5 separate regions of the Homo sapiens genome follow, and regions 1, 2, 3 and 4 are each reported to be linked to region 5. The links are microRNA targets in miRTarBase. Many come from high-throughput screens and were not tested one by one. Region 5 holds a microRNA gene; each other region holds the end of a gene's coding sequence.
Evidence for each region. The annotated mature microRNA hsa-miR-22-3p reads AAGCUGCCAGUUGAAGAACUGU and lies in region 5 at 3,631-3,652, shown strand. An mRNA with a match to its seed (bases 2 to 7 or 8) in the 3' UTR can be bound and repressed. Matches are read on the target gene's strand: a 7mer-m8 pairs with bases 2 to 8, a 7mer-A1 pairs with bases 2 to 7 and ends in A, and an 8mer does both.

Region 1 (5,092 bases), not on the chromosome of region 5:
AGAGACAATATTTTATATTTTATTTACCATTGTATTCCCAGCTCCTAATACTATGCCTGGCAATTGGGGCATGAGTAAATCTTTGTTGACTGAATAAAAAACAATAACTTGGCCTGGTACAGTGGCTCATGCCTGTAATCCCAGCACTTTGGGAGGCTGAGGCGGGTGGATCCTGAGGTCAGTAGTTCAAGACTAGCGTGACCAACATGGTGAAACCCCGTCTCTACTAAAAATTAAAAAATTAGCTGGGCGTGGTGGCACGCACCTGTAATCCCAGCTACTCAGGAGGCTGAGGCAGGAGAATCGCTTGAACCTGGGAGGCGGAGGTTGCAGTGAGTTGAGGTCGCACCACTGCACTCAGCCTGGGCGACCGAGTGAGACTCTGTCTCAAAATAAATAAACAAACAAACAAACAAATAAATAAATAAATAACTTTTCTGATTATCCTACCAGCGGAGGAGGATGGTATACAAAGGAAGTACATAGATGAGAGCCCTGGCTTCAAATCCTGACTCTGCCATCTGTTGGGTGATCTTGGACCAGTTGATTTACCTCTCTAAGCTTTAGTTTTCTCATAAGTAAAATAGGTATAACCATATTTACATAAGGTTGTGAAGATAAGAGGTATTTGCCAAATGGGCACCCACTAGGTCCTTAGTGAATTACAGACATTGCCATCATTACTGTTATCATTCAATTTGGACAGATGGGGTGGAAAGTCTTCTGGGGAGGCCACAGGCTCCTCAGGAAGAGTGACAGATTACTCACACCCAAAAGGAAACAGATAGTAACATTTTTTATTAAATATTACAGTGGATCAAAAAGTACAAAATATCTCTTGCCTGCTATGTGATTGGGAAACTATTGGCACGTAATACAGTATCAAAAGCAGTAATAAGTACAATTTGGAAAACATACAAAATTGAGTGTTTATAGTTGGCTCAGCATTCTTCTGGTAGTGTTTAAACTAATGCAAAGGTTACTCAATAACCTCTCCATTGGGAAACTATATAATATCACTGGGCCATGTTGCTATATACAAATAATCACCTTACAGAGCATAGAGGTTACATAGCTGGAATCACCAAAAGTATACAATATTTACAACACAGGAAAGTTTAAAAAAGTATAAACAGCCAAGAGATTATGCTGCTATTCTTCAGACATATTTCAACCATGAGGAGACAGGCAGAATATCAAATACACTAACAGCCAACACTGGACTTTAAGTGCTCAAGATAATCATTGCAATGGTATGGGTCTCACCAGGGCAAACTCATTCCCATTTCTCTTTAAAATTGGGACAAGAGTAAAACTAGACCAGATGCGACTTGGCTGACCACCACCAAATGTGACTTTGTGGGACGATAAGTGAAGAGAAATAAATGGTTCTCTTTGAAGGCACACTACATAAAATATTTTTGTGGGACCACCTCGAAATTTCCATCAGACACACCAACACAGTGAAATACAGTACTTGAGAATTCATGCACCAGGTCAGAAAGTTGTAAAGTTAACATCGAGTTTTAACAAACCCTTCTGTATATGCCCTGATAAACAAGTGAACTTAAGAGCTTCTAGCTAGTAAATAAATAAGTCAGTCCTGTGGCAAATATTACAAGTTTGAATCACTTACTAGAAGAATACTTAATTCCGAAACTCGGTTGGGCTGTTTTTATTTTTTTATCATGTGGAGTTGCCAAACATTAAACCAGAAGTTGCATGGAAGTTTTTTAAAAATATTATTTAGAATCTCCAAATCTCCAATAAATCACAGACTTAGTGCATTTTGAATTGCAACATTTCTTGGAAGCCACACTCAGTAAATAGATTTATGACTCCACTGCCAATTCGATTCCACAGTTTCCTTTACAGAACTACCAATAACAATGGTTTGATTGCACAAAGAAAGGCTTGTGCAATTCCATTCAATAATAAGGCCCCTTGAACTCAAACAATGCAAACAAAGCCTTATTTAAGACATTTTAAAACGTCGTTCTCAGCCAATGAAGAATTCAATGGTCTTTTTGAAAGATTTCCAAGATCTCTGTTCAGAGTTTTAAAACAAATAACACACTGCTTCTGTTGGGAATGCGTACCCCCATTTCTCTTTATTTGTCCTGATGTTTTGCCGAGGGTATGAGCTTCCTCAGACAGAAACAGTGAGTCTCCTCTCAGAAGAGATGAGAAAAACAAAAGCTGGACTATGTTAACATTGTTTGAAAATGGTGTGATCGAATTCCAACATGATGAAACCAGACTGAAATCATTGCAGTGGAAAAAACAAATGCCCCATATTCCAAATAGGTGAGCTCCACCGGGGACAGATGCCCCCCCTCCTTTTTTTTTTGAGACACGAACTCATAGAAACCACATATGACCTAGCCCATGTCTGCTGCAGAACCACCGAAGTTTCCTTTTTCTTCCATGTCCTCCGATTCTGTGACCATTCAATCTAGTGCAACTTTCTTATATGTGTCCTGGCTAGCATCTTGCCAGCTGGAATTGAGATTTTTCCCCCCTCTAGCTTGTGCAATAGCAGGATAATCTGCACTCACACATTTATAATCTAAATTCTACTAGTCTATCTATGGTTCTATTAAATATATATATATATATTATTCCACAGGAAGGTAAATAATTAATTGAAGCAAATGGAACTCTTAACACTGGATCTCTACATTCTTTTGTTTCCACCTTTGGATATTAAGTATGTTACATTGAATATTTGGCTTCATATCATGGAGACATTTCAATACAAATGCACGGCATGCATGGCTTTGTTTAAGAGCCGCAGTTTCATTGTTATCAGTTTTGATTATTTTGCAGTCGAGTTACCTATTTAGAAGTTGAAAATTGTCACCAATTTTCCCAGAATTAAGTATCTCAGAGGTAAAAGACTTAGTTAACTATGGTTCTAAAGTCTACTGGTAGTGTTGCGGGAGGGGCACAGTGGGTTGGGGAGTTCATCCAAGCGGTCTTCAGCAGGGATGGGACTTGGGGAGAAAATCCACTCTCTGTATCCATTGACTTTTAATTAATACAGTTAGAAAATGTGTCCACCTTAATGTTATATCTCGGTAGCAAATGGAATACAGTGGCAAGAATGACAACGGACATTCTCCACATCTTTTCACTGCCTGAGCAGCTTGACCATTTACTTCCCACAATAAAAGAAACCAGAAAGTGGACTGTATTGCCAGGTGGTTAAAAACATGACCCAAACCACCTTACATGTTTCTGTGTGTGTACACACAAAACTCACACCCCATAAAACCAAATAGGATGACTTTTCTTTTGAAAAGGCTAATCCAGTATGTCAGTTATCCCCAAAGATGTGGCCTGGGAGATTCTTCTTGGGAATGACAAGAAACCAACTGGATGAAAACAACATGACTACTTATCACTCAAAAGACCGAGGCTAGAGAAGCTATCAGGACTGCAGCTGCTCCTCTTCTGGCCAGTTGAGCTCCATCCTCTTCCCAACCCCCTTTCCCAGACCATTTAAAGGAATCAGTGCCAACGCCAATGTAAATCATTTTGGCTCCTGTTCTAATTTCTGAAATTCCTAAAATATCTGTGCAGCCCACAAATATGTCCTCTAGACTCTGTTGTTATTCGGCAGCTTGCTGCCAGTGAGGTTTTTGTTTTTATGATTCTCTGGTATGTAGGACAGTTTCACAGCCTAGATAAGGTAAGTACAATGCTCAATATTTTCACAGAACCCAATACTTCAAAGCAAAGCATTTGGCTGGGTAAGCAGTGTATAAGCTCTTTCAACTATGCCATTTATGAGGAACAAAATCCTTAAGTTGCGGATCTACAAAGGAACGTTCTTTGCACTATTGTGTGCTTGACTGTTTCTTTTTCATTTGTTCCACTAGAATCAGTTGCTTCAATTTGTAAACAATAACTTTACCACCCAAAGCTGCTCAAAATAAGATGTGGAAAAATTACAAACACACAACAACTAGGACAGTCAGTCAGCCTCAAAAACAAAACAAAAACAAAAAGACCTGCAAACAAAAGCAATACCATTTAATAAAAAAAAAAAAAAAAAAAAAAAAAAAGACGAGAAGGAACTGGGAGAAAATGGAACTACCTGTATATAAATTAGGTGAGCAAACAGTGATACAGGTAGTTTTAAGAAGCAAATATATACAGTCAATTTAACAGTGTTTACTTCTCTGGATTGTTTAATAGTGTCAAAATGAAAGATCTATTGAAGTTTCACTATACATTGCATTGATTGAACCTTGGAGAGTTTTATGAAAAAGAGGGGCATCCCTTGCCATCTGTTTGCCAGTCTTCCTTGCCCCTTCCTTTGAAATGCCTGCCTCTTTTTTGCCCAGATTGTTTCCTGACCATCCGAACTCAGATGGGGTCCTCTAAGTTCTTCCTGGATATTCACAAATCCCTTCACAAGGCCCACGTGCGAAGTGAATGATCTGGAGGTGCCTGGGCATCTGTGTTGGAAGGGAGTCAAGACTCACCAGCCAGTCAGTTTGTGGGCTAGAGTTGTCCCACAAAAATCAGGCATGTTCACCTCCCCTCTGGGCCCCTACAGCTGGGACTGATCATAGCCTCAGATTAGAAGAAATACTGACTTCTAACTCTATAAGCCAGCACTCCTGGGTAAGGAGTGAAGCTCTGTTGGCCATGCCGCTTTGGACTGCTGGGCAGAGCTGAGCCTACAGTTTTGTACTGGGGTGCACGGATGACAGCTGGGAAGATGGAAAGGCAGCTTGAGGATTTATAGCAGCTAAAGGGTAAATGCTGTTATGCAAAAGGTCCCCATATGAACTTCCTACAGGTGTAGCCGCAGCCAAGTGTCTGTACAGCTGCTGAGAATTTGTCGGTGATGTAAAAATTCCTCTTTGCATCACAAGCGAGTGGAAAGCCAGGGGCTGCATGAGTGGAGAAAGCACAGTCTGGTTTTTCAAGTACTGCAGAGAATGAGAATACCCAGCCGGGAGCCTGGAGTTGAGGCCCGAGTTACACAGGCTCCCGGAATACAGACCTGGGAAGATAGGGGAGGAGAGGGGAAGCTTGTGGCCTTCTGATCCGCCCCCGGAATGCCCACCGTGCGCTG
Region 2 (5,102 bases), not on the chromosome of region 5:
CCCGAGAACCTGGGTACCAGAGCTCCCAGCATGACTGTTCATGTGTGGGACTTGGACCCGGTGACCCATGGGCTGGGTTCACCCGCCTGGTTTCCACTGAGAGGGCCCCGTGGGGCCGGGGTCTGTCTGTAGCCTGACTCGGGTGCTTGGTGCTGGAGTCTGGAAGCATGCAGGGCTTGTTGAGCTGCACGGGGTGCATCTGCCATGACACTGTGTGGAAATTGTATAGCAACAAGTTTTTTAAAAGTGCCTGCCGGCCTGGTGCAGCAACTCATGCCTGTAATCCCAGCACGTTGGGAGGCCAAGGCGGGCAGATCACGTGAGGTCAGGAGTTCAATACCAGCCTGGCAACATAGTGAAACCCCATCTCTACTAAAAATACAAAAATGAGCCGGGCGTGGTGGCAGATGTCTGTAACCCCAGCTACTCGAGAGGCTGAGGCAGGAGAATCGCTTGAACCCGGGTGGCAGAGGTTGCAGTGCCAGCCTGGGTGACAGAACGAGACTCCGTCTCAAAAAAAAAAAAAAAAAAAAAGTGTCTGCCTCTCAGTGCACCAGCTGAGTCCAGCCAGCAGGACAGAAGCCACTGGGACATCACACTGAAGGTTCAACAAGGGAAATGGCAGGATGAGGGGGAGGTGGGCATGTCCCCCCAGACATCCCGGTTCAGCCCCAGAACCGCGGATGTGATCCCACGTGCCAGAGTGGACTCGGTGGCCACCATCACACTTGGATCTTGGATGGGAGATGATGCTGGGTAATCGTCTGGGACTGATGTAACCACAGAGGGTCGGGGTGAGAATCAGGGATATGACCACGGAGGCAAAGGTTAGGGTGAGGCGAAGAAGGCCACAAGCCCGGGAATGCAAGGAGCACAGCTCTCGAGGTGGAGAGCACGAGGAACGGAGCACCTGGAGCCCCTGGAGGGCAGGGCCTGCCCACACCCCAGTGGCCGCGCAGGGAGGTCTGGTCTGGACTCCTGGCCTCCAGAACCATCAGAGAACAAATATGCTGCTTGAAGCATGAAAGCTGTGGGGATGGTGGCCGTGGCTGGGGGACACTCAGGCGGTGGCTTTTCTGGGACCAGTGTCTCTGCAGAGGCTGCTGCTCTGAAAGCATGGTGGGCCACAGGGCGCCACACCCCCTTGGGTCCTGTGCCTGCTTCAGGAAAGGGGTAAGCAGTGTGGTATACGCCAAGACCTCCTCCTGGTTTCCCTCCTCCGCATGGATCACTCCTCGAACACAGCCCCTGCTTCGTCAGGGTTCCGTAGCCTCACCTATCGCAGGCTGCACCCCATCCTTCCTCCAGACCCCTGGCCTGTGGGGCTTACCGGGGCCGAGGCCAACAGACTGATCTCGTTGCCAAAGACCCAACAGCCACCAAACTGGCTTCAACAGGGCTATGTGTGGCAGGTACTTCACAGGGGGACGTGTTCTCATTTTCCTTGGCTTTCTAATAAACTCTGGTCTAAAGAAAATCTCTTCTATAAAATGAGTGGCCAGTGCCAAGGGGTAGAGACAGAAGCTCCTTCTGGACACTGGCTGCTCCAGTAGAGCCCATCCTGCCCAGGTACGGAGCCCACCAGCTGCGATCAGGACACTGCAGTTCCACCGTGGGGGACCCCGGGCCCTCACCTTGTCAGTCCTCTGTTTCAGCTTCGAGGGCTTTGACACAGTCTAAAATCCACAGGTACTTAGCGCATTTCTAAGTCCCACCTCATGATCAATCATAAGACAGGGCTTTGATGGTATGCAGAAATATCAATGAAATCCAAGAGGAAAACAGAACTAAACTCATCGGGATGAATGACAGATAAACCCTTTAAGCATGTTTCAAGTCGCCCAGGTGGAGCCTCTGTTGGTCAGTGAAGCTTCAGGGTTCCCATGAGATGGATCTGCATGAGGCTCAGTCCTCTCTTGAAACACTGCCCATTTGCAGGAGCGCCGGCCCACAGGGCAGAAGTCAGACTGTCAGAGCAAGTGCCGGTCCTGAAGCTGGAAGGACTTTCAAGGCTCATTCCCCAAACTCATTTTTTTTTAAACCTCTGCTCATCTTAAAGAAAGGAGAGGCAGGCGCCCCAGAAACCTCTCAGGAGTAACTGACACACGTGACTTGCGGTGTCTTCAAAGGAACACTCTGCAACTTGCTACTGTTTAAACAGAGCAAGACTAACAGTCACCAGCAGCTGGTTCACGCATTAAGGCCCTTTGCAGGTGAAAGAAAACGGCACTGGAGGGCCGACTGCAGAAGCAGACGCAGTGCACGGTGGACATCTGCCCCTTTTGGGGGCCTGCCACGGTGCTTCCTGAAAACTCAGGTTAAGCTGACTCTGCTGTCAGGCTGATGAGGCGCCTGCACCCACCTTTGCTCAGCACGCCAGCCCAAATGGAAGAGCAGGTGCTATGACAAAAATCAGTTCTTGTAGCAACTATTTTTGATACTGAAACTGAAAAGCGAGAGCAGCAAAGCTATCCACGGAGCTCCTGACAGTTAGGCCCGGCTTTGGCTGCTGATGCAGGGGCCGAATGACGCTATTTCTGCAGCAGCCGGCCGCAGGCGCTGACCCACCGCGGGATGTGCCCCAGGAGGCAGAAGAAACGCTGGGAACCGCACCTAACCTTGCCAGCATCCCCCAGGCAAAGCCAGGCACTTTGAGTTCATCGGTGGAGTTGGGCGATACTCCTTTCCCGTTTGTGTGCTTAGCTGCTGCCAACAGGATGTGCTGGGTGAAGCCTTACAGAACACAGCCAGTTGTGTTTTATAAAGCAAGGCTCCCCTCCCCCAAAGACAAATAAAACCACAGGTGTGGAAGGGACACCCTCCACCGCACCCCGCCCTAGTAATCTGACACCGCAGGCAAAGGCACGGCCTGTGTGGGTAAGATCCATTGTAAACGTTTAAAACTTCCTGTTCCCTGATGCCTCAACTTCCCCGCAGACCGACGCACCTGTGATGGGCAGGGCCGTGTGACCTCGTGACCTTCACATACACCAATGAAGACCCTCACGCCTTCTGCTGTCTTTCCCCCACTGCTGACTTGCCTGCGGGCCCCCACTATCTGCCCTGCCTCTGGAGCCGCCTCCCGTGTGCCCCCCCAGGCCCCTTAAGGTGCTGTGCGTCCCATCTGGAACCGGCAGTTCACCCGCTCTCCCAGCCACCCTTCCAGACCCCACTTACAACACACGACTAAGTAACACAGTACAGGCCGTGTATTCGTATTTGTTTTCCTGTGCCAACTCATCTGGTATCTTCGTATTTTAATGAATAAAACTGAAAGATGACAACTTGAAGCCCCAGTGCATTCCTCTCAAATCGAGTGAAGTTTACAACACCTTAATTATAAAAGATTTATCTGATCCAGAAGAAAGCAGAGTGTACAGAAACTTCACTGTCATCTGCGAATGGACTGAGAGCATCTGGATTTGGTTCTCAGCCTGAATGAGCATCCTGGAATGGTGTGTCTCGTCCATTTACGTGGAGACACATGGAACAGGCCTGCAGGCTTGGGGCTCTGAGCAGGGCTCCCAAAGCCCCTCAGCTGCAAGGAAGCCAGGCCCATGAGAGGGGAGCCTGTTCCAGAAACACAAGAGGATGAAAGCTGTTATTGGCAAAGGAGACTTAGAGCAAGGAAATGACCAGGAATAAAAAAAGATTATATATTTAGAGGCCAGGTGTGGTGGCTCATGCCTGTACTCCCAGCACTTCAAAAGGCCAAGGCGGGTGATCACTTGAGATCAGGAGTTCGAGACCAGCCTGGACAACATGGCAAAACCACATCTCTACTAAAAATATTAATACAAAAAAGCTGGATGTGGTGGTGCACACTTGTAGTCGCAGCTACTCAGGAGGCTGAGGCAAGAAGATTGTGTGAACATGGGAGGTGGAGGCTGCTGTGAGCTGAGAACAACAAACCCCACAAAAACTAACTTCAACAAACATTAAACTTCACTACACACCGAGTCCAGCAGTTCTCCACCCATCTTTCTATTCCATTTCTCTCTCTCTGCCTCAACCTAGGGCAAGATAAGCTTGACCTGATGGGTCATGGCTCTGTACAATAGTTTAGTCTTAAACAACTAAGATGCTACGTATCTAAGAACACTCATGACTCAAAGGCTTGCAAAGGGCTCTTTAAATTTGCTCTTTTAATGCATAAATAAATCCATATCATGTATTACTTTCTGGAAAAGGGTTAAACTCAAATATCCGAAATACTTTCATTATACCAGGTCAAGAAAAATGCCACAGCCAGAAAAATTTATTTTAAAATAGAAACATACATTAAGCTTTAAAACAACCAACTCTCAAACAAAAGAGGAAAGAGCCTTTGATCCCAGAGTCCATGCGGAATGAATTCCATACGTGTTTGAAATTCACATAAGGAGCACTTAGAAAACCACCTGAAATGGAAATCCAACAGCCCCCTTGCCTGTGAGGGCTCCCACCCCTGCCCGCGTGAGGACATGGCCGAACCCCGGACACTCGTGTGCCGGGAGCCACCACAGCTCAAGGTGACCGGCAGCACCCAGCTCTGTGACCAAGACAGATGTTCACACGTGGGGGCATCGTAAGCGCTACCAGCTCCAAATCTGACGTGATGGGAACTTGGGAGATGTCTGAGAAATGTCCGAAGGGATTTTGGCAACACAGAAAACGCAATGTCTAGGAATTCCTCCAAATGCTTCCAAAAATACTCATTGACAATTCAAGTTGCACTTGGCTGGCGGCAGCCCGGGCGGCCTTCAGTCCGTGTGGGGCGCCCGCGTGGCCTTCTCCTCGTAGGACTCCCCAAACTCGTTCACTCTGCGTTTATCCACAGGATAAAGCCTGCAATGACACAAATGAGCACATCAGCAAACCCCACTGCAGGGGCTATTTTTCTAAGAGGAGGACTTGGCATCCTCGATTTATTTTCCAGTGAGCTGCCACAGTGAGCAAATTAACTAAAAAGTCGAATCCTCAGAAGTTTTACTGCCGAGGGCTGAGGAGGGATTTCTGAGTTGTGTTTTGTTCTGCATGGCCAGGCCAGCGTGCTGCTCTCAAGGAAAGGGAAGCTTGGCCGAAGGGACGACCCGGAGGCTGCACGGGCTGCCATGGCTGAA
Region 3 (5,102 bases), not on the chromosome of region 5:
AGGAACTCTCTAAAAAGGAATTCCCTGGTCTGGCGGGGGTCAAGATCGCCGAAGTAGACTGCACTGCTGAACGGAATATCTGCAGCAAGTATTCGGTGGGTACTTGGATGGATGCTTATGGGAGCTCTCAGTATGGGGGCAGATCCCAAGGGAACTGTGCCTCAACCACGATAACTCACTCTGCTCTCATCTTCTCAACAATGTGGTTTTTATGTCCCTTTGAGTTGTTTGTTTGGAGAAGCAAAAGAGATCCTCTCTCAAAGGGAAGGCATTCTTCTTCGCCCGCTTTGTAGTTAGTATCCATGTTTCAGTGCAGGTTTTCAGGCCTTGCTGTCTGAGTAACAAGGCCGTGAAGTAACAGACCCCACGCCATAGACTGTGGGGCTTCCCACACCGCGACTCTTGATGATTGACCAGTGGTCTGTAGCCTTTGCCATAAATACCCGAGTCGCTCATTTTTCACACATAAGCCAGCATTATAAAATGCAGTGGCTGAATCTAAGAATCATTTCAACATAACCTCCTTTCTGAAAGGGCCATGCCAGCAAGTCGGTCCTGTGCTTGGGTTAACTACTGCCTTCATTCCAAGCTGTTAGCACAGTCTGATGGCCTGGAAGATTTGTCATTTTTTTTCTTCTTTGTTATTCAGACACTTTTGGAGCCCTTTAGATGGAGAATAGACGTAACCCAGACATAGTTTCCTTATCATTAAAAGATACCAGTTGTTTTTTGTGCCCTAAAATTCTTAGAAACGAGTTGCCACTGAAACATGTATCCTCAAGAGGATCTTGCTCTCATGGTCTGGTCTGCAGACCACCAGGGCATCGCCAGGGAGGTCATTGGAAATGCAGACTCCCAGGCCTGCTCAATCCAAATCTGCACCTTCAGCAGATCCGCAGGTGATCGTGTGCACAGTAAAGACTGAAAGCGTCTGCTTTAGGGTAAAGTCGTTCCTTTGAGGCTGATCTTTAATGATGTCATTTTGAATTCAGAAGTGAACACACAGCCCCACGGCTGTGCTTTCTAAACAGTAGTCTGCTCCTGTTTTAATGGAATATACACCTTTAAAAATTAGCCACAGAATTTTTCCAGCCACAACGGTAGGAGTGTATCTGGTTTTATTTAGGAAGCAATTTGCATGTGATCTGGACCGCTGGTTTGCAAACTTTTTTCTTTTTTGTTTTAAGGTACGAGGCTACCCCACGTTATTGCTTTTCCGAGGAGGGAAGAAAGTCAGTGAGCACAGTGGAGGCAGAGACCTTGACTCGTTACACCGCTTTGTCCTGAGCCAAGCGAAAGACGAACTTTAGGAACACAGTTGGAGGTCACCTCTCCTGCCCAGCTCCCGCACCCTGCGTTTAGGAGTTCAGTCCCACAGAGGCCACTGGGTTCCCAGTGGTGGCTGTTCAGAAAGCAGAACATACTAAGCGTGAGGTATCTTCTTTGTGTGTGTGTTTTCCAAGCCAACACACTCTACAGATTCTTTATTAAGTTAAGTTTCTCTAAGTAAATGTGTAACTCATGGTCACTGTGTAAACATTTTCAGTGGCGATATATCCCCTTTGACCTTCTCTTGATGAAATTTACATGGTTTCCTTTGAGACTAAAATAGCGTTGAGGGAAATGAAATTGCTGGACTATTTGTGGCTCCTGAGTTGAGTGATTTTGGTGAAAGAAAGCACATCCAAAGCATAGTTTACCTGCCCACGAGTTCTGGAAAGGTGGCCTTGTGGCAGTATTGACGTTCCTCTGATCTTAAGGTCACAGTTGACTCAATACTGTGTTGGTCCGTAGCATGGAGCAGATTGAAATGCAAAAACCCACACCTCTGGAAGATACCTTCACGGCCGCTGCTGGAGCTTCTGTTGCTGTGAATACTTCTCTCAGTGTGAGAGGTTAGCCGTGATGAAAGCAGCGTTACTTCTGACCGTGCCTGAGTAAGAGAATGCTGATGCCATAACTTTATGTGTCGATACTTGTCAAATCAGTTACTGTTCAGGGGATCCTTCTGTTTCTCACGGGGTGAAACATGTCTTTAGTTCCTCATGTTAACACGAAGCCAGAGCCCACATGAACTGTTGGATGTCTTCCTTAGAAAGGGTAGGCATGGAAAATTCCACGAGGCTCATTCTCAGTATCTCATTAACTCATTGAAAGATTCCAGTTGTATTTGTCACCTGGGGTGACAAGACCAGACAGGCTTTCCCAGGCCTGGGTATCCAGGGAGGCTCTGCAGCCCTGCTGAAGGGCCCTAACTAGAGTTCTAGAGTTTCTGATTCTGTTTCTCAGTAGTCCTTTTAGAGGCTTGCTATACTTGGTCTGCTTCAAGGAGGTCGACCTTCTAATGTATGAAGAATGGGATGCATTTGATCTCAAGACCAAAGACAGATGTCAGTGGGCTGCTCTGGCCCTGGTGTGCACGGCTGTGGCAGCTGTTGATGCCAGTGTCCTCTAACTCATGCTGTCCTTGTGATTAAACACCTCTATCTCCCTTGGGAATAAGCACATACAGGCTTAAGCTCTAAGATAGATAGGTGTTTGTCCTTTTACCATCGAGCTACTTCCCATAATAACCACTTTGCATCCAACACTCTTCACCCACCTCCCATACGCAAGGGGATGTGGATACTTGGCCCAAAGTAACTGGTGGTAGGAATCTTAGAAACAAGACCACTTATACTGTCTGTCTGAGGCAGAAGATAACAGCAGCATCTCGACCAGCCTCTGCCTTAAAGGAAATCTTTATTAATCACGTATGGTTCACAGATAATTCTTTTTTTAAAAAAACCCAACCTCCTAGAGAAGCACAACTGTCAAGAGTCTTGTACACACAACTTCAGCTTTGCATCACGAGTCTTGTATTCCAAGAAAATCAAAGTGGTACAATTTGTTTGTTTACACTATGATACTTTCTAAATAAACTCTTTTTTTTTAAAAGTCTGGTCTTTCCTTCAATGTTACAGCAAAACAGATATAAAATAGACAATAAATTATAGTTTATATTTACAAAAAAAGCTGTAAGTGCAAACAGTTGTAGATTATAAATGTATTATTTAATCAGTTTAGTATGAAATTGCCTTCCCAGTACATGATTGTGAAAAAGACATTTAGAAAATATTCTAAAATTTAATCTGAGCCTCACTTTCTACAAGGGAAATCATGATTTCCGTTCATAAACAGCATGCTCATCCCCCTAACACCATTCTTATAAGCTGGGCACCCTCATTTTATTTTCTTCGTTGGTTCTAACCCTGTGGCGTGGTATGCTGTATAGTAAAAAGGCAGAGAACCACTTTACTGAAAAGGTACTAGAGCCGGCAGTCCAGAAGTTAATGTGCTGGTCAAAGAACCGTTCTGGTAAAGAAGAGGTGAGCATTGCCTTCACGTGTTACACGGTTACACACCCCTTGTAGCCTCACCTCAGTGTAATCAGTCTACTTTTGGTACTAGCAAAGAGTACAGCAAATGGAGGATTGAGGTGTAGAAATGGTATGTTTTGGCTGAAATAAGTGTATTTTCACACCAACAAAACTCCAGCACGAACATACAACAGCAATGACTGAGACAAGGGCGCCCCGTGGAGCCCTGGCTGTGGCCTGGGCTGTGCGTCCTGTGGACTTCTGGGAATGAACTGAACAGAGGCGTTCCCCCCACTTCCCCGATTTCTGTTCTCTGTAAAATCTACCTTTGATAGACAGTACTGAACCAGCTGATCCTTTAGCCAAGAATACATTTAACTCCTTTGAGATTATTTTCCCTATTTACTAACAAACACCCCAAATAGCTTGATCTACAGCTAAAACTAATTTTGGTGGGTTTTTGGGGGAGGAGGGTAGGAAGAGCTTCACGGTTATGTTTCTGCAGTTACCAGACCTTATGCTACAGACATCCAAACTCAGCTTGCTACAGACCAACAACTACTCACGTCATTTACCAAGTGAGCAAATTATTAATGAGGTCCTTTAAAATCTTCCTGGGTAATAAGGCACTGGCATGAGATAGTTTCAAAGTCTCATCGTCCCACCTCCAACTGTGCTTCCGTGTTTTTTTAAGGCAGATGTAATCTAGGAATCCAAGGCAGAATGTGTGTCCCCAGCATCTGGTTTCGAGTTAGTGGCATCCACAAGCTCTTACAACCATATTCCTGTATTTTTTCAGAATGACATTGGAGTTGTCATCAAAGTAAAGAACCGAGATGGCATTTAGCTTAGTTGGCGCACAGCACGGTTTGGGGACATACTCGGGGTTCATAAGGTGAACCTGTTCCAAAACAGAAGGGGAGAAGGTACCTTAGAAATGACACCTGGTCTTGGCTTACTCCCACTTACAAAACAAAGTCTCCGAGAGCTCACCAAGGTCTGCACAATCGCGTGGTTGGTTGCATTCATGTGTGCGTTGAGTGGGAAGGAGCATTCTCCATCACAGTAATTGGCAGCATAGCCCTTGGGTGCAATGATCCAGTCCTTAATTTCATGCAAAGGAAGCAACAAAAGATGAGCATGCACTTCTCACACTATTTGTGCTTTTCAGGAATGCTGTGAAAAGGTATTTTTCACATTGCACAGGCAAGGATACAGACGCAGGAAGGCTTAGGAATTTGTCCAAGTTCACATTCAAGTGGCAATGCTGGGAAGTGAACCTGGTCCATCTGACCCCAGAACCCTCGCTCCTTGCAGAGGCCCACAGGGCCTCAGCTGCTACCTGGAAGCACGTAGGTTGCCAGCAATATGTGCTTGGACCCAAGCAAGCCTCTCCAGGAGCCCACGGTGCTCCTGCGGAAGTAGTGCCACCTGCATATGGAAGCTACCTTTTATCGCTCACCACCTGTGATTAAAGTTGCTGCCTTTCTTACAAACTAGTGATGGTTCTCAGGTACGAGGCAAACGTGTGCTCTTCTGCATCGTTTGGTGAGCTGGTTTGCAGCCATTGGAGATGTTAACCATTAGGTAATTTTTTTCCAACCCTGTCTCAATTAAAATTTGTTTAAATGCCCAAATAAATGTATGTCCTATGGGCTTTGAAAGGATGAGGTGAGAATATTGGGAAATGTGGCTATTGATTTTTGAGGGATCACAGAGCTCAGGCACCCTAGGAAGGTGTTG
Region 4 (5,087 bases), not on the chromosome of region 5:
GTGGAGGTTGCAGTGAGCCAAGACTGCTCCTCTGCACTCCAGCCTGGGCAACAGAGTAAGACTGTCTCAAACAAAACAAAACAAAAAACAGTATCTTAACCTGTACATTATGTTTCTTTATCTAGATATAAACAACATCAGCCTACTGACATGGTCATGGAAAACCTGAAGAAATTACTCACATATTGTGAAGATGTTTACCTGTATTACAAGTTGGCATACGAACACAAGTTTTATGAAATTGTAAATGTGCTTCTGAAGGACCCTCAGACAGGTTGCTGTCTAAAGGACATGCTAGCAGGTTAGATGATTTCATAGGTGTCTGTTTTCTTGTACTGTTAGCAGATTCTGACAGATGTGATGAGAAGAAGAATGCATTGGAGATCTTTGCTAAAGTTGAACAATCCCGGTACTGTACCATATCAGTCCTTTGTGGGTAGTAGGTAGCAAGTAAGAAACTTTTCAGGAGGAAATTCCTATTTAAAATAGATTGATTTTAGATGATTGTTCATCCACACCATTTTATATAGATACTAGTATTAAGATCAAAAGCTTCCTCTTCCTCAGGACAGCTTCTACTTTAGATGATCCAATAATGATTAAAGAATACCTGTACCTGCAGATTCCAGTTTCAAAGAAATTTAATTATTATTTACACAGTTAAGGAACAGGTGATACATTTTCATTTGTTAGAAACTGATCTTTCTGTAATAAAATAGATTTTCAATTCAGTGTATGTCATTATTACTGCTAAGGAAATCTTAGCCCTTGTCTGCCTTAAAGGAATCTTTATTTAATTTACTGTAATTATTGCTGTGTAGTCACTACTTTTGTTAATTTCTCAAATCACTTAGATGATGGTCTTGTTTTCCACTTAGTAGGTATACAGAGCTTTGACGTTCCTATTATTTCCTATATAAGAGAAATTTAAAACATTTTTTGTTCTTTCTGTCTTAGGGGAATAAAAAAACACTAACCACACATTTGGTTAAACTGCTTAGGAGAAGACATAATAAAGATTCCCCAATCTATACTTAACAGCCATAAACCTGAGTTACAGGCTCAGTTACTCCAAATAAATAGTTCTTATAGGTACTTAATTAATTAGGCCTTGGTATCTAAATAACAAAATAATGTCCCCAAATAAATAAGAGGAAGGCAGCCCTATACCTTTGTTGCTCTATGGTGACAACATAAGGACCTGGCAAATCACTCATGTTTTAAAGCTGTAACTATGTCAAGCATTTATTAAGATTTAGTAGAGAACGTAGAGAACTGTACTCCCAAGAGCTGTGTTCTATACTCTCAAAAAGTATCTCTTGGGAGGTAACACAAAATTTAAGTCCTCACAACAGTGATTTTATTAAATTAGTTGCTTTATAAAACATTGCAGATGTCATAATTGTTAACATAACAATTTACCAAACTGTAGTTAACTGGTGCAGTTTGCTGAGCATGTTTTATAAAGGAAAGGAAAGGAAATGCCAAAACCCTGGTAAAGTTGTTCCATTGCAGCCTAAGAGAACAAAGATTTGTTTCTCAGACACTTAAATCAGGCAAATAAAAATAAGTTTCCCTCCCCCACCTGAAGCAGTTCATCAGTAGAAATAGCCTGATAAATAACTAGACAGTCTTTGCACTCGAGAGATTCCACAACATGTAATGCAATAATGGAAAGGTTTACCTTCTTTAGCTTCAAAGTTGGAGGGTTTTGGTCATTTTAATTTTATATCAAACTAGTGCTTTTCAGCCGCAGTATCTTCACTCTGAGATAAGCAGTCTTCTTCACAATGTATTTTTAATATCCTCATGTTCAATTTTAAGACAAAGCAATTTTAATACTAGGTGCACACCACATGCCCTTGCTGCAAACTGCTTTTCTTGACAAGTTATGAAGTAGTTCAAGGAGGTATGGTTAAGGCTGTATTACTGAATGGTGCTGGTAAATACTACACAATTTTTTTTGTCACGTTGCAACCTTTTGTTTCCAATTTAGTGACTGCTGCTATGAAATCAGATAGCAACAACGACAACATTATTAGGTTTTGAACTATGATTTAGTAGCAACTTAGGTTCCCAATTTTAACCCCTTGGCAGCAAGATCCAAGTTCCCTCATTTGCACATTAGCACCTAAGTGTCAAGGGGTTAAATAACCAGCACAAAAGATACTGCACTTCTGATTGTAGCATTTGGCAGAACTGAAAGGAAAGGAAGTTGTGCTACATGTTCAAGGGATTGTGGGCAACATAAAGATGACACCAAGAAAAGATAAAATGTCACATGAAGTCTTCATAGTCTTGTACATATCCTCCATCATAACCACCATAATCTGCCAGATCATCTTTCATGGTGGCTTTTAATCCCCCTCCAGGAACCACACCTTTCTTCTTCTTTTTGGCTTTGCTTTGCTAAAGATGAAAGAGAGTTAATTCATGAACCTTAGTGTGCTATGGGCATCTTATCTGGTACAGCAACCCTCATAAACAAACACACAAAAACCTTTGGTCCCAGAAACACTAGTTCTGTAAGGGACATCCGAGCCTACATGTTTTGGACCTGAACAGGTCTCCCAGAGTCAGTCTCTCCAAAACTTGATCTGGGTCCTTGGTCCTGCTCTGGATACCTAGCCCACCAGCAGGGGTTATAAGTTATTGGTAGACAGCCTTAACTTCACTGAAGCAAATTTAGAAAAGTGTGGATAAGTACCCCCCAATTTAAAATCACAAAGCTCTAACCTTTACTTGACATACTTCTCTTACTTTACTCTTATAAATACTCTGCAAAGTGAGTATTATTGTTCCTATTTTAGAAGGGAGAAGACTGAAGCTTAGAAAAGCTGATTTACCTATACCTATTAAGTAGCAGTGCTAGTATTTGAACCCAGTCTGTGATTTCAGCAATTTCTATTAACTCAGAAAAGGGGAACATGTCTGGAAACAAAAGGACAGTAATAGCACCCATACTCCTCTTCTAGTCTAACTTAAATGGTATTAGTGAGTTGCTTGACTTTTAATTAGGACAGGCTCCTATTATATTTGTTGACTGTTAGACCTATAACCCCACTCTAATTTAATACCCATTTCCCTACACAGCTTGCTCTTACCTTTTCTTGCTTCTGTTTTTCACTGCAAAGCACAGTCAGTGAATTGGTAATTTTTTTCAAGTCATCAATTTCCACTTAAAAAAAAAAGGGCATACCATTAAACTTGAATTTTTAAGCATTTTGAAAAGTTAAAGCTAAATATGTACATTCCATATATATCTATATATCCCAAAATGTACATTCCAAAAGTGTTATGAGAAATCCAATTTGTTCATTGTTAAACTTCAGTAACTTTGAAAGGACCATGAATTTCTCCTCTTTAAACGTAAGGTGGCCGGGCACAGTGGCACATGCCTGTAATCCCAGCATTTTGGGAGGCCTAGGTGGGTGGATCACTTAAGCCCAGGAATTCGAGACCAGCTTGGGCAACACAGCTAGACCCTGTCTCTTGAAAACAAAATTCATTTTATTTATAATGACGACCTGTAATCACCAACACACCATTGCTCAACCAAAGAGAAACTGTCTTTATAGCTCACAATGCTCCCTACTATCCTTCCTCAGTCTAAACAAATGGGGGAGGATAACATGCCCTTCCATTAACACACCCCCAGTAATCAGGGAGAACAGACAAATAAACATGAAATGACAATTACTATTATTTTTTTTTTTTTTTGAGATGGAGTCTCACTCTGTCACCCAGGTTGGAGTGCAGTGACGCGATCTCGGCTCACTGCAACCTGCGCCTCCCGGGTTCACACCATTTTCCTGCCTCAGCCTCCCGAGTAGCTGGGACTACAGGCGCCCGCCACCATGCCCAGCTAATTTTTTGTATTTTTAGTAGAGACGGGGTTTCACTGTGTTAGCCAGGATGCTCTTGATCTCCTGACGTGATCCGCCTGCCTCGGCCTCCCAAAGTGCTGGGGTTACAGGTGTGAGCCACCGCACCCGGCCTATTTTATTTTTTTTTTTGAGACAGAGTCTCGCTTTGTCACCAGGCTGGGGTACAGTGGCGTGATCTCGGCTCACCACAGCCTCCACCTCCCAGATTCAAGTGATTGTCCTGCCTCAGCCTCCCGAGTAGCTGGGATTACAGGTGCGTGCCACCATGCCCAGCTGATTTTTGTGTTTTTTTTTTTTTTTTTTAATAGAGATGAGGTTTTACCATGTTGGCAAGGTTAGTCTCAAACTCCTGACCTCAGGTGATCTACCAGCCTCAGCCTCCCAAAGTGCTGGGATTACAGGCATGAGCCACCACGCCCGGCCAGAATGACAATTCTTAAACCTACAATGACAACACCCTATCCCATGATGTCTCCATTTTCTTGCACGGGAACTACAATGAGAACAGTGACCATCTCTATGTCCTACCAAGAAATAGTCCTGTTCAGTGGACAGCATTATCAGCCTTATAAAAATATGAAGCTGGAAAGAGACACCAGTTTTTAGCTACCAGAAAGTGTTCAGTTTTGGTTAGAGAACACCTCCAAAAACCAGAAAAAAATTAGTACATGCAGAATAAAATATCAACTCTGGGCACATTACCAATCAAATGTAGAACCCTCAGCTTAGTGATAATTTATCAAAGAAAACCCAATTCATTGTGTAGGATTCCTTTTTCTCCATCTTAAAAACTGCAAATAGGCTGGGCGTGGTGGCTCACACCTATAATCCCAGTACTTTGGGAGGCCAAGGCAGGGAGATCACCTGAGATCAGGAGTTCCAGAGCAGCCTGGCCAACATGGTGAAACCCCGTCTCTACTAAAAATACAAAAAATTAGCCGGGCGTGGTGGCAGGCGCCTGTAATCCCAGCTACTCAGGAGTCTGAGCAGGAGAATTGCTTTTTTTTTTTTGAGACGGAGTCTCACTTGGTCACCCAGGCTGGAGTGCGGTGGCACGATCTCAGCTCACTGCAAGCTTTGCCTCCCAGGTTCATGCCATTCTCCTGCCTCAGCTTCACCTTGTTAGCCAGGATGGTCTACAATCTCCTGACCTCGTGATCCGCCTGTTTTGGCCTCCCAAAGTGCTGGGATTACAGGCAT
Region 5 (5,102 bases):
GTTTCCTTAAAGGCGCAATGTCCTGAACGCAGGCTCAGAATTTTGGAGCTCCAAGTGAACCTTATCAATTACCTGATGGAGTGCGTATTTAACAGAAGGAAGGATCTCACCCTCCAGCCTCATCATTCCTGCTTAGTTACCCTCAGCCCCTATTTGGAGCTGAAGGAAAAGGCATGGATTTCAGTCCACATGTTCCTCTTTGGGGGACTTGCGGGGATTGATAAGGTAGGGCAGGTCTCCGGCTTGCCCCTTTAAAAACGCCGACCAGCAGCTTTTGCCAAGTCACTGGGTTCATTTCACTTTTTGCCCATCCCCCGCTCATCTAGACTCTGATTGGCCCCTGGGGAAGGAGCAGCCTGCTCATTGGTCTCCACCTTCGAATCTCTTCCCTAAGTAGGCCTGAGTCAGTGAAGAGCTTTGGAGGGCGGGACTGAATGGGGGTTAATCAGAGGATGCGATTGCTGACCCTTTGCACTTTGGCATGGCCCATCCCCTAATTTCTGACCAGAAGCCCTCCCTCTACCCTAAGGTGAGGACTGTGCTATGAATCTTTTGTTAGAAAGCTACCTCTTGGGAGGCTCTGGGGGCTCTTCTGGGACTGGGAAGAGACATCCAAGAAAAAAAGCCTCCTGTGGTTAGGAAGAGCCCCCAGGAGGAGTGGGCTGGGCGAGGCGAGCACCCTCCCTCCTCCAAAAACCCTGGAGAGCTCTCCAACGGCAGTCTCTGCTGCCCTGGGGGCTGACGCTCTGCCCACTCCTGCTCCTTGGTCCGCTCCACCTTTCCTTAAAGAGCTATAGCGTCCCGCAGAGGCCGGCGAGTCAGTTTGGGGAATGTCTAAAAGAAGCACTCACGACTCCAACAAGGAGGGGCTGTCGCCCTTTAAGGACTTCCCCGGGCTGGATTCCGAGCTCAGTTTAAAAATGCCAACTCACAGAGCGCGCTGGGTTCTGGGAACGACGGTGTCAGGCTGAGAACTACACGGACCAGCATGCATTGCAAACGCAGACGCCGTGGCTTTCGCCTGCTCTTTAGGACTCTCGTTTGACGTAGCGCTTTTCTAAGCGGGTCGCTGACGCGGAGGGCTGGGCCACACCTGTCCGTCTATTGGCCGGCTCCTCAGTGGGTGGGCGTGGCTTCGTGCAATTCCGCCCGGCAAAAGGGTGGCCTCCTTGCCAATCAGAGCCAGGGCGCCCGGAGAGGCGGGACCAGGGCGAGGCCCCGTCGGCCCCCGGGTGGGCGGGGCCACGTTGCCCAGCAGTGGGCGGTGATTGGCCCCGGGCCGTGCATTCGCAGCTCGTGCGTCACGACGCCGCCAGCTGATCGGAGCCTGGAGCCGGTGTGTGCTGGGTGCCGAGAAGAGACAGCGCCGCCGGCCGTGGGGAGCGGACGCAGTGATTTGCTCCCCCTCGTGCAGCAACCCCCACACCCAGCACCAGGTGGGTGTGAGCTGGCGACCCGGTCACGCAGCGGGGAGCCGCGGTAACGGGATGGAGGGTGAAAGTGGGGTCCGGGCGGCCACACCCAGCCCTTCCGGGAGGAGAAGGGGCGGCGGGGGCAGGGGCGCCTCGGGGAGAGGGGCCTGGACTGGCCGGGTTAGTGTGTCAGGAGCTACGAGGAAAGAGTCTGGGACGGGAGTCGTGGCGGAAGGGCTGGCGGAGTGGCGGGGGGCGGGGGGAGAGCCGAGGGGCCGGAGGGCCGGGGGCGGCTCACCCGGCGGCCCCCGGTCTGAGGATACAGGGGCCGGCCATCTAGCCTGGGGAGGGTCTGGACCCCCCGAGCGGGCGGCGAGGAGGTGCTTTGCCTCTGCCGGCGTTCACTGGGTCAGGGCCAGTTCAGCGCCCTGGCAGGGAAGGGGTCGCTGGGCGGGCCGGCCCCTCCTCTCGTTCTCTCCAGGGGATGTTATGTAAGGGGGGAGGGGAGAGGAGTAGGGGGCGGCGGTGCCGGGGCCTTATGCAACCCAAAGGTTAGGGTTTCACCGTGGTTGGGCGGGGGGAAGAGGGCAAGAGGAGGGCCTGGAAACTCTAACCCCCGCTCCCCAGACTAACTGGCCGTCTTGGGCCGAGAGAAGGTCACCTCTGCACCTCCCCCCAGCCTGTCCGATTGTGAGGCCCCTAGCCCAGGCCTGGCCCTGACTGCCTGGGAAGCCGGCTGGCTGGGTGGGGCGCCTGGGTTAGTCATCACTGGGCTGCCTCTCTCCCCACCTCTCGGCCAACTCTTGGCCCCTCCCCATGGCCTCCGGCGAGGCTGTCACCCCCACCTCCCTCCGGCCCTGGTTCCAGCCTCCAACTCCTTTGGCCTGTCATCCTGGCTGTCAGATTGGGCTAGGAGCTGTCAGAGTGCCAGAGGGTTGATGGAGCAGCTGGTCAGAGGGTCAGTGCCCTGGGCCCACCCCGCCCTGCAGCCAAGGGCACCTGCTTGGCACAGACTCTCAGCAGCTGCTGAGTCCTCTGGGTTGAACAGAGCTATCTCAGACAGAGGAAGGTCGGACGGAGTTGGACTGGTCACCCAGGGGAAGGAAGATACACAAAGTTCATGCCTCCCAAGAGGGTTTCGGAATTTGAACCGCACCCCGTATCCCCCAATCTTTCTTACCCTCTGAGTATAGAAATTCCAAGGCAAGACCGCCTTGGCCCCTCAGCCTGGCGTGGGCCATGCCCTTGGACTGAGTGTCAGCACGGACCCGCCCTCCCCAGCTCACATCCCCCGAGCCTGCCACGCCCCCAGCCCCCTCCCTGGGCCATGCTGCAGGGCCCGGCTTTTCCTGCTGATTCATGCGTTGGAACTGTGGGGGCGGGGCTTGGAACTTGGAACAAAGTTCAGACATGGAGGGGCCGGCAGACAGCCTGGAATTCATACCAGATGTACCCGGAATGCGCAAGCGGAATGCCTGGCATCTGAGAGTCCTGGGGAAGCTGCCCAGCCACCCTGCCCATACCTCCCTCCCCTCCAGCCTGTGGTCCCCTGCCCGCCCCTCACAGCCCCGGCCACCCTGCCGATACCTCCCTCCTCTCCAGCCTGTGGTCCCCTGTCCGCCCCTCACAGCCCCGGGGGCCTCTGCTGACCTTCTTTCAAACGCTAGGCCTCCTCCCTTCCTCACTCTTCCCCAATCCAGGCCCCCAGAACTCTCCTTCCAGCTGAACTCCCTGGGAACAAGTCAGTTGGGCTGATCACTGAACTCACATTTCTGGACCTGAGGTACCACACTTCTAGTACCTGCGTGCTGGTGGGGTGTGTCCAGGGTCCCGGGCCCCACCCTGTCTGAATGCTGAGGAGGCTGGGCCCCCAGGGGCCGCTAGGGCAGGGGAGGGTGAGAGCAGGACTGGGTTTCTCTAGACTCCAGTTCTGGAAAGAAGAGCAAGGGAAGTCTGTTTACAGCCACCTCTTGCTGCTCAGCGAGGTTAACAGCTTCCGCGGGCCCAGATCAGAGCTGCAGCCCTGCATTAGAATCTCAGAGGTCTACTGGGGCAGGACCCTGATGGCCAGCGAGTGGGTCAGCGTTGCAGCAACATGCCCTGCTCAGATCTTTCCCATTTTCCCTCCCTTTCCCTTAGGAGCCTGTTCCTCTCACGCCCTCACCTGGCTGAGCCGCAGTAGTTCTTCAGTGGCAAGCTTTATGTCCTGACCCAGCTAAAGCTGCCAGTTGAAGAACTGTTGCCCTCTGCCCCTGGCTTCGAGGAGGAGGAGGAGCTGCTTTCCCCATCATCTGGAAGGTGACAGAAATGGGCTGGGAAGGTCCGAACAGCAGGGTGGATGATACGTTTTGGGCAAGTTGGAGAGCCTTTGCCCAGATTGGCCCAGCAAGGAGCGGTTTTAGATTAGAGACACTGGCTGGATTGAGGAGTAGAAGGCTCAAACAACCCAAGGTTAGTTGGTCTTTGTGTGACAGTGGGAAGAAGTGGAGAGAACACTCTGTCTCCCCGACTTCCTTCTTGACCCTCCTTCCGTATCTTTCATTCTTCCCCACTGGCCTTTCCAGATGAGGTCCAAAAGTAAGCTCACTCTTCAGGGAAAAGTGATACTAAACCCAGGCGTGAGGAGTCATCCTTCTGCTCTTACTTTTCCCTGCATTTCCTTAGGCTGGCCCAGACTCTAGATTCCTGGGCACTTACCTGTATCTGAGACCCTTAGACCTCCTGTCTCAGTTTCTCCACCTGTGAGATGGGCAGTCACACAGATGAGTGTGCATGAGGGAATCAGAAGCCCATCTGGGTTGACTCAGAACCCGGGCTCTCCCCCTGCTGTGGGTGGAAACAAAACACCTTTTCACAGAAGCTGTTGTCCCTCCCCCATCCCTGATACCATCACCCAGAAGCTGGGTGGGGAATGGGAAGCTGGAGGAGGGGGTTAGAGTTAGACCAATGCGAGGAGCTAGTAAGAGCTCGCCTCTCCGTGACTTCCCCCCATGCAAGGGTGGCCCAAGGCTTCCCCTGATATCCAAAGCAGGACAGCAGCCCCTTGGTGGGATTCTAACTGCTGCTACTCTGTTTCTTTCCTCACTTTGCTTTCCAAGGTGGTATGTGATCCCCAGCTCAGGCCTGTGCAGACAGGAAATTCTCCCCTGCAGCAAGTAGGGGAGGTGGGTTGTGGGATGTGACCTCCTTCCAGATATCAGGCAGTGAGTGTAAACCTGCCACCTCCAGCCCTGATCCATTCTCACCTAGCGGCTACAGGAAGCTGTGTCTGTTCGATTTGGTGGGAGGAGATGTGCAGGGAGCTGTATCTTGTCCTCCGCTTGTGAAAAACTCAAGGATGTGGAGAAGAGTAGACCGTGGAACCCTGCTCTTCTGCAGCCAAGCTGAGGGGCAGGATGCGTGTGGGACAGTGGTAGAGAAGCAGGGGATAGACTCATAGGCTGCAACAAAGGTGACTCTGTCCCTGGACACTGCCTCCGTACTTTCTCCTTGCTTCACTGGCCACAGCATCTCCCTCCAGCCCTCGCTATGTGCCTCTGCCATCTTCACCCATCATGGAGCAGAGGTGAGGAGAGGCAGCCTGGGAATATGGAGACCAGTGAAGGACCAGGCCTGGAGAGCACAGGGTCCTACCTGGGCATCCAGCAGAGGAGCCCCTAAAGGCCAGGAGCACCCCAAGAGGAGGGAGGG

Region 1: miRTarBase lists ARID5B as a target of hsa-miR-22-3p. The part of its 3' UTR that is shown has no 7-base or 8-base seed match.
Region 2: miRTarBase lists CLPTM1L as a target of hsa-miR-22-3p. The part of its 3' UTR that is shown has no 7-base or 8-base seed match.
Region 3: the mRNA of BMP6 is a reported target of hsa-miR-22-3p. The part of its 3' UTR that is shown has no 7-base or 8-base seed match.
Region 4: miRTarBase lists SPG11 as a target of hsa-miR-22-3p. The part of its 3' UTR that is shown has no 7-base or 8-base seed match.

The regions. Positions count from the first base shown.
Region 1 is chr10:62,092,630-62,097,721 of GRCh38, reverse strand. ARID5B (AT-rich interaction domain 5B) reads right to left here. Exons shown (of 10, transcript NM_032199.3): 10 at 778-5,092. The coding sequence ends at 4,692. Among named protein-coding and RNA genes, the nearest start is that of LINC02621, 160 kb to the left of the region's middle.
Region 2 is chr5:1,313,627-1,318,728 of GRCh38, forward strand. CLPTM1L (CLPTM1 like) reads right to left here. Exons shown (of 17, transcript NM_030782.5): 17 at 4,126-4,827. The coding sequence ends at 4,743. Among named protein-coding and RNA genes, the nearest start is that of MIR4457, 6.8 kb to the left of the region's middle. RefSeq lists enhancers at 2,290-2,679, 2,970-3,119.
Region 3 is chr6:7,879,352-7,884,453 of GRCh38, reverse strand. BMP6 (bone morphogenetic protein 6) reads right to left here. Exons shown (of 7, transcript NM_001718.6): 6 at 4,353-4,463; 7 at 2,726-4,260. The coding sequence ends at 4,111. TXNDC5 (thioredoxin domain containing 5) reads left to right here. Exons shown (of 10, transcript NM_030810.5): 9 at 1-95; 10 at 1,188-2,937. The coding sequence ends at 1,310. BLOC1S5-TXNDC5 (BLOC1S5-TXNDC5 readthrough (NMD candidate)) reads left to right here. Exons shown (of 13, transcript NR_037616.1): 12 at 1-95; 13 at 1,188-3,204. Among named protein-coding and RNA genes, the nearest start is that of TXNDC5, 29 kb to the left of the region's middle. RefSeq lists an enhancer at 1,189-2,388.
Region 4 is chr15:44,558,340-44,563,426 of GRCh38, reverse strand. It overlaps SPG11 (SPG11 vesicle trafficking associated, spatacsin), which reads left to right. Exons shown (of 40, transcript NM_025137.4): 40 at 126-731. The coding sequence ends at 306. EIF3J (eukaryotic translation initiation factor 3 subunit J) reads right to left here. Exons shown (of 8, transcript NM_003758.4): 7 at 3,105-3,178; 8 at 624-2,409. The coding sequence ends at 2,278. Among named protein-coding and RNA genes, the nearest start is that of EIF3J, 24 kb to the right of the region's middle.
Region 5 is chr17:1,712,464-1,717,565 of GRCh38, reverse strand. It overlaps MIR22 (microRNA 22), which reads left to right and starts at 3,579; the gene lies at 3,579-3,663. MIR22HG (MIR22 host gene) reads left to right here and starts at 1,356. Exons shown (of 3, transcript NR_028505.2): 1 at 1,356-1,436; 2 at 3,552-3,863. It also overlaps a transcript of WDR81 not described here. RefSeq lists an enhancer at 568-1,209.